Homo sapiens: one gene and its partner. The protein of the gene in region 2 interacts with the protein of the main gene of each other region in a biochemical or structural test. Each region holds a gene or a part of one and is shown on either strand. Other genes may lie near its edges.

What was found.
Region 1: the proteins of NGB (region 2) and GNAO1 form a complex in vitro, tested with the Homo sapiens proteins (one study listed by BioGRID).

Annotation. Positions count from the first base shown.
Region 1 is NC_000016.10:56,197,989-56,201,488, reverse strand, and holds part of GNAO1 (guanine nucleotide-binding protein G(o) subunit alpha), read right to left. Parts: intron 1-3,500. UniProt on the Homo sapiens protein: Guanine nucleotide-binding proteins (G proteins) function as transducers downstream of G protein-coupled receptors (GPCRs) in numerous signaling cascades.
Region 2 is NC_000014.9:77,264,983-77,268,206, forward strand, and holds the end of NGB (neuroglobin), read right to left. Parts: intron 1,689-3,224; coding exon 1,554-1,688; 3' UTR 501-1,553; downstream 1-500. UniProt on the Homo sapiens protein: Monomeric globin with a bis-histidyl six-coordinate heme-iron atom through which it can bind dioxygen, carbon monoxide and nitric oxide.

The DNA of each region.
Region 1 (3,500 bases), on a different chromosome or scaffold from region 2:
AGAATAAAATCCAAAGTCCTTAGCACAATAGATAAGGCCTTTCATGATCTGGTTTCTGTCCAATCTTTCATTCCTCATTTCTTAACACTCCTCTTACATATTTTGCTCTAGTCAAATCAAACTATTTTACACTCCTAGCATGTTCCATGTGGTGACATCTTAATGCCTTTACACATGCCAGTCCCTCTGCCTGGCATTCCTTTTTTTCGACCTGGTGAACTACCACTTGTTTTAAAGGCTCAGTTCACATGCCATTGTCTCTTGGCTGTCTTCCCTGAACTTCCTGCCTAGAGAAGGTGCCTTCTGTTCTACCATAGCACACTGTGTATACAGACATTGTGGCCCTTCCTACCTGAAGTGCAAGAGTCTTTTTTGTGTAGCTCCCTCCAGACCATGAGTTCCTTCAGGACAAGGACTGAGGCCTTCCTCTCTACTTCCATGACACTGTGTGTATGCTACCCACAAAATAGGCAATCATAAATGCTTATGGATGGACAGATGGATGGATCCCCTACCATCCTGTCTTTCCATAGTTCTCCAAGACACCTGCCTCCACCAAAGCCAGAGCCTTCTCTCTGTTGCAATCTGAAAATGGCCCCCATTTTTGAGGCGGTAATGAAAAATCATTTCAAGGCCTGTCCAGATGGTTGCTAGGGAATACTCTGGTATCCAAATCAATGTGATATATGATGACCATTACTACCACCTCCAGAAGGAACTCAGCACCAATTAGGCACTTTCTATTCTCTCAGCCACTGACCTCAACCACAGCTGGCACCATCAACATCTGGGTGTGAGGTCGTAGACTGCCAGGTCTCTACTGCCCATACTGGGGGTGGTCTAGTAAGAAAGGTGTGGAGTTACAACGAAAAGAACACAGGTTTTAGAATTAGACAAATCATTGTCTGAATACAACACTGTCACCTACTAAGCTGTGTGGCCTTGAGCAAGCCACCTTACTTCTTTGAACCTCACTTCCTCATCTGTAAAATGGAATTGATGACTATATTTGCTCACAGGTTGATAAACAAATGAATATAATAGATTGAAAATGATGAACACATTCCATGGCCACCAAAAGCTTTCAACATGATTATTTTGGTTTATGGAGAATAATAAGGTTCATTCCTTATATACCTCGTATTCTTCCTTTTCTTTAACTAACGTTTATTAAGACCTCCTTTGTGCCAGGCATTGGGCATGGTGCTGTACTATGAGCAAAAATAAGTAACATCCTTGCTTCAGGGAGCCCTGGTGGGAAGGGACACCCAGGCTAGCAAGGGATACAGACAAATAAACACCTAATTAATTCACAATGTGCAATATGCATTAGTGCTCTGAGACCCTGGGGTCAGGTGACCCCAGGATCAATTTTAAAGCATGGAGAAGCTATTCTCATAAGTAACAATATTCTACAGAAAACCTATCTGTTGGCTAAGACACAGGCAGAGAATCCAAGGTAAATTGTTAGCTATGAAATCCTAGTCTTATGTATTATTCTCCCTTTCTCTTTTCTCCATTCTACTTATTTCTAGGATGGTTGACAAATCAAGAGAGTAAGGGGCCAAATTCAGGGCACCAACTATTAGCCTTGCAAGATTTTATTTTACTTTAATTTTTTGGTGCTATGAAAAGCACAATGTTTTTCCTCTTCTCTGTAAAGAAAATTAGAACTAAAGATGGCTCAGCAGATAAAAGCTGTGGGTGGTAAATACTCCCACTATTCCCCACCGCCTTTCAGGCTTCTAAGTTTCTCTTTGCATTTACTGCATCTTAGAGCTGGAAACCCGAAAGAGCCCTGAGAAATTCTATGGTGAAAACCCACATCCCAATTAACAGATGAACAAATTGAGGCCCAGGGTGGCCAAATGATCTGCCCAAAGTTAAATGAGAGAGTGAATCAAAATTAAAATACAGTTCTCCTGAGCCTCCCCTTTTACTAGTCTGCAAATCTCTCTGCTCCCTGGGTTTTAGGCACCTTAACCCAGGCAAGTTTCTTCATATGCAGCCATTTCTGGTGAACGCTAGGGCTGTCTCCACTTCTGAGCATCCTGGAAGCCACGGAAAAACCACTTCTCTTCTAATGTCACTGGCTCTCTCCTCCCAGAAACATCCTGTTTCTTACTAATGAGATACTTTCAGATCCTCCTCTTTGGTTTAAGAACCATGTCTGCATGAAAAGTTTGGTTAGAGGTGTTTTTCTCAAATTGACTCTCAGAACTACAAATTTCCTGGCTGACAAAGCTCTGTGGCTGAGGTTGCTATTCTGCAATTAACTTAGTCTTAAAAGAACTTTCATGGATACCCTACACCCCCATGGGATAAAACCATAATTCATGCTTTAATATTGAGAACATCAAGACCCTGAAAACAAAGGGAATTCCCAATTTCATACACCGTTGACAACAGGAAGGGAGCCTGGGGTAGCCCTGGTCCAACTCTTTCAGGAAACCGAGCCCTCGGAGGGGCAGAGGCAGAGCTACTGACCTGGACTCCTGGTTCAGTGCTCTTTCCCACCCTTTGAAATGTCACCCCAGCTCTTGGGCTGAAGCAGCTGCGCCATCAAAAATGTCACATCAGTTATGACAACACAGTTTGTTATATAACTGGTGCTGCAGAGCAGGCAAGGGGAAGAAGCCATGAACATGAACCACAGCACCCCCCTTCTGCTTCTCAGGGTGGCTAAGTCCCACATACTTACTTGACAAGAGAACTCCACATGGGAAGGGAACACCCACTAATCAAAGGAATAAAAACTAGAGCTAACATTTGTATAATGATTTCTACATTCTAGACACTACTCAAAGCACATTTCATATGTTAACTCATTTCATGCTCTCCACAATCCTATTAGTAGTTATTTTCATTATCAGTCCCATTTTACAGGTAAGGAAACTGAGGCACCAAATGTTATGGGCCTTGTGTAAGGTCACATATTTAGTTAGCAGTAGAGCCAAGATTTGAAGCCAGGCAGCCTGTTTGCAGAGTCTATGCTCTTAACCAACTCTCAATTTTAGAGAAGCATGCTAAACTGCTTCTCTAAACACAAGAAACTACCTATTTATCTGAACCAGTTAACAAGCCACTGCTCTCTCCTCTCCTTCCCCTCAGTGCTAATCACAGATCTGTTGGACAGCTTCCTTTCTACCAATGCTGTGTGTGAATGAGAGGGATGGAAGAAAATAAGAATGTGACACAGATTTGAAGAAATTCTTAGGATGGAGTTCATTTGAGCATCTTCAAGCTTTTTAAGATGATGCAATCAGTAAGAAAGTGAGGTGAGTGCTCTTCTCAACATCTGCCATTTGTAAACCCACACTCTGTGGGTATGTACAAACAGGCACACTTTCTTTTTTCAGAATCAAAAGTTTTCTCTATTAGTGTCAATTCTGAGGGTAACTCTTTCCAAAATGTGGTTTTTTTTGTTTTGTTTTGTTTTTTTCAGTTTGGAATCACCCCTTCACCAGCTTTTCTGTTGTCTTTCAGATCAAGATGTATTC
Region 2 (3,224 bases):
TGATTCTGATTAATAGGCACCTTCCTCCAAGCAGCGATTCAGGGTCAGGACTCCTTTCACCTGTGGCTCTGCCATGTTCAACACGTGGCCCTCATGGTCTCTGTGAGGTCTGTATCACACCAGCAGAAGGATGACAGAGCATGGAGGAGCATGCAGGAGTTTTGGGGGACCAGGCCTCGGAGTGGCACACACATCTGCACGGTCCAGCGGCCAGAGCCCAGTCACATGCCCCACCTAATTGCAAGGGTGGCTGCATGACATCCAGCTGTGTGCCCAGGAGGAAGAAGAGCTGGTTTGTGGTCTGCCAGCCAGTTTGGGCCACAGACCCCACAGATGTCTGCCACTGGCTTCCCAGAGCTTCCTCCCAGGCCCCTCCCTCCTGTTCCACCCACTCCAGCCTTGGCCTCCCTGACTCCATCCTCCCATCCTGTCCTGAGATCCACTGCCCTGCAGCTTCATCTGGCACAGGCCAAGACCCAAGAAAAGATCAGGCCCGAGGGTCAGAGAGGCACACAGAACCAGTTTATTTCTCATGAATTTATAGGACCACAGTCAGCACAGAGCAAATGGTACAAGTGCAGATGGCTGGGGTGAGGGCGGGGGCCTCTGCTGCTGCCTTCTCTTCTCTCCAGCTGCCTGAGTACTGGCACACAGCGGGCAGTGAATCTGAGGAGCTGTGGCCTCACAGTCGCTGCAGGCTGAGCCAGAAAGGAGGGCCAGGGGAGGTAAGACTCACTCCTGCAGGAGCGGGTTGGTGATGAAGGGCTGGGGGAACTCGGGTCTCTCTGGGATGAAGTCACCCCTCCTTCCTGGCCGGTCCCCAGCCCCTCCCCACCTGGCCAGCTAGCTGGGTTCCTGCAGCAGCGGAATAGTCAGGGAGTTCCCAGCAGAAGTGCTGAATGAGGGAAAGGGAATGCCGCCAAAGGAAACCGACTCTGTCAGGGCATCTGCACAGCCCGCGAGACTCAAATGAGACCCATTGAGACCCAGGTCCCCCTTCCCTTCCCTGGCAGTTCTGATTCTGCTCCCACTGCCTGGGATTCCACCAAGAAGGCTAAAGCTGCTCTTTCTCTTTATTTGTGAAAAGCAAGCCATCTTGGGGCAGGAAAGCAGTGAAGGGACTGGGCAGGCAGGACAGAAGGCGCTGGAAGCTCAGCCATCTCACCCCCGCCTTGGCCTGCACTCACCTGAAGAAGCAGGACAGACAGAAGAGCCCCATCCTCTCCCACCTCCATACCTTTCCAGCTCATCCCACCTCTGCCACCAAAACACTCATCGCGGGGTCAGAGGGAGTGCCAAAAAAGGTAAAAAGAAACGCAAGAAAGAGGCTACTGGGGATGAGGGGACACCCAGAAGCCCCTTCCTGGAGGAAAAGCCACTCCTTCTGCAGCTGGACTCTAGGATACTGAGACCCAGCCCTGCCCCATCACCTCTCCAGTGTGGCCAAGGGGACAAGGACCAAGATGCAGGGAAGCTTGGGGAGCCTGGGCTACAACAGATACAGGCCAACAGACAGACACAGATGGATGGGGGCTGCCGGGCGGGGTCGCCTCTTACTCGCCATCCCAGCCTCGACTCATGGCCTGCACTACGGCCCCGTAGAGTTGGCTCCAGGCAGCCCGTGTGGCTGGTGTGAAGGCAGGGCCCAGACACTTCTCCAGCATGTAGAGCAGAGACTCACCCACTGTCTGCAGAGGCAAGGGGCACCTTGTCACTTCCAAAGGCAGAAAGGCACTGCTCCATTCCACAGGTGAGAAAACTGAGGCCTAGGACTGATTAGGGCTCCTGGGCCTTTTTTCCTCTCCTGCATTGAGTCCATGCTTCCTGAGCAGGGTCCTACCCAAATCCTTGGGTATCACATTGTGTCTACCTTTCCCTCTAAATGTGAGGCTTTATATCCTCACATTTTTCACCCCTGTCTTGGTCTTGCAACCACCCCATGAGTGGGGCCAAGACATTGCCTGGGACCTCCCAGCTTAGACCAAACCAAGTCATTGCTCCCAGACTTGAGTTTCCTCATCTGCAAGGCAGCAATGATGGGGTTAAGAGCCTGGGCTCTGGAGCCAGATAGACCTGAGTACAGATTCTGACTCCACCCTTCATCAGCTGGGTGACCTTGGGTAAGTTATGTAACCTCTCTGAGCCTCAGCTGCTTCATCAGTGATACAGGGAAAGTAGAAGCTCCAACTCCTGGGCCTGTTGGGATGATTAAATGGGATAATCCAGAAAAAGCTCTTAGCACAGCATCTGTATACAGGAAACCTACAATGATAATAGGCCAGGTGCAGTAGCTCACGCCTATAATCCCAGCACTTTAGGAGGCTGAGGTGGGCAGACCACTTGAGCCCAGGAGTTTGAGACCAGCCTGGTAAACATGGGAAAACTCCATCTCTACCAAAAATACAAAAATTAGCTGGGCATGGTGGTGCATGCCTGTAGTCCCAGCTATGAGGGAGGCTGAGGTGGGAGGATCACTTGAGCCTGGGAGGTTGAGGCTGCAGTGAGCTGTGATCACATCACTGTACTCCAGCCTAGGCGACAGAGCAAGATTCTGTCCCCAGAATAAATAAGTAAGTAAATAAATAAATAAAGATAATGGCTCTCATTTGCCATTATTACTCATAATAAAATAAGGTTTATTTATCTCACAAATATTAACTGAATATCCACTGTAGCCCTGGTAGATCAGGCACTATGCTGGTGCTGGGGATGGAGAGGAGGACAAGACCAACACAGCTCCTTCCTCAAGGTGCTCACCATCTGGCAAGGTGACTGGACTGTGTGGTGTACTGTCATATCAGTCGCCCCCAGTGGGCTACACCTCAAGGATTCATGCCCTTGAGTAGGGTCCTCCCACATTGACACTGGGCTTATCCATGTGAGTGGCTTTGGCCAATGGGACATTAGCAAAAGTGATGCAAGCAGAGGCTTTATAGGCACTTTCACACTGGGGCTTGTCCTCTAAAAACTCCCCCTTGGAACTCAGCTGCTATTCTATAAAGAAGCTCAGCTAGACTAGTGAATGACAACAAATCACAGGGACAGAGCTCAAAGGCTGACAGGCCTTGGACATTCTAGCCTCAGTTGAGCTCCCAGCTAAACATAACACACAAGTAACTCCAGCTACACCATGTGGAGCAGAAGAGCTGCCCAGCTGAGCCCAGCCATGAGAAATCGGAAAGCATTGTCATAGTTCTAGGGTTGTTTGATACATAGCAATAGAA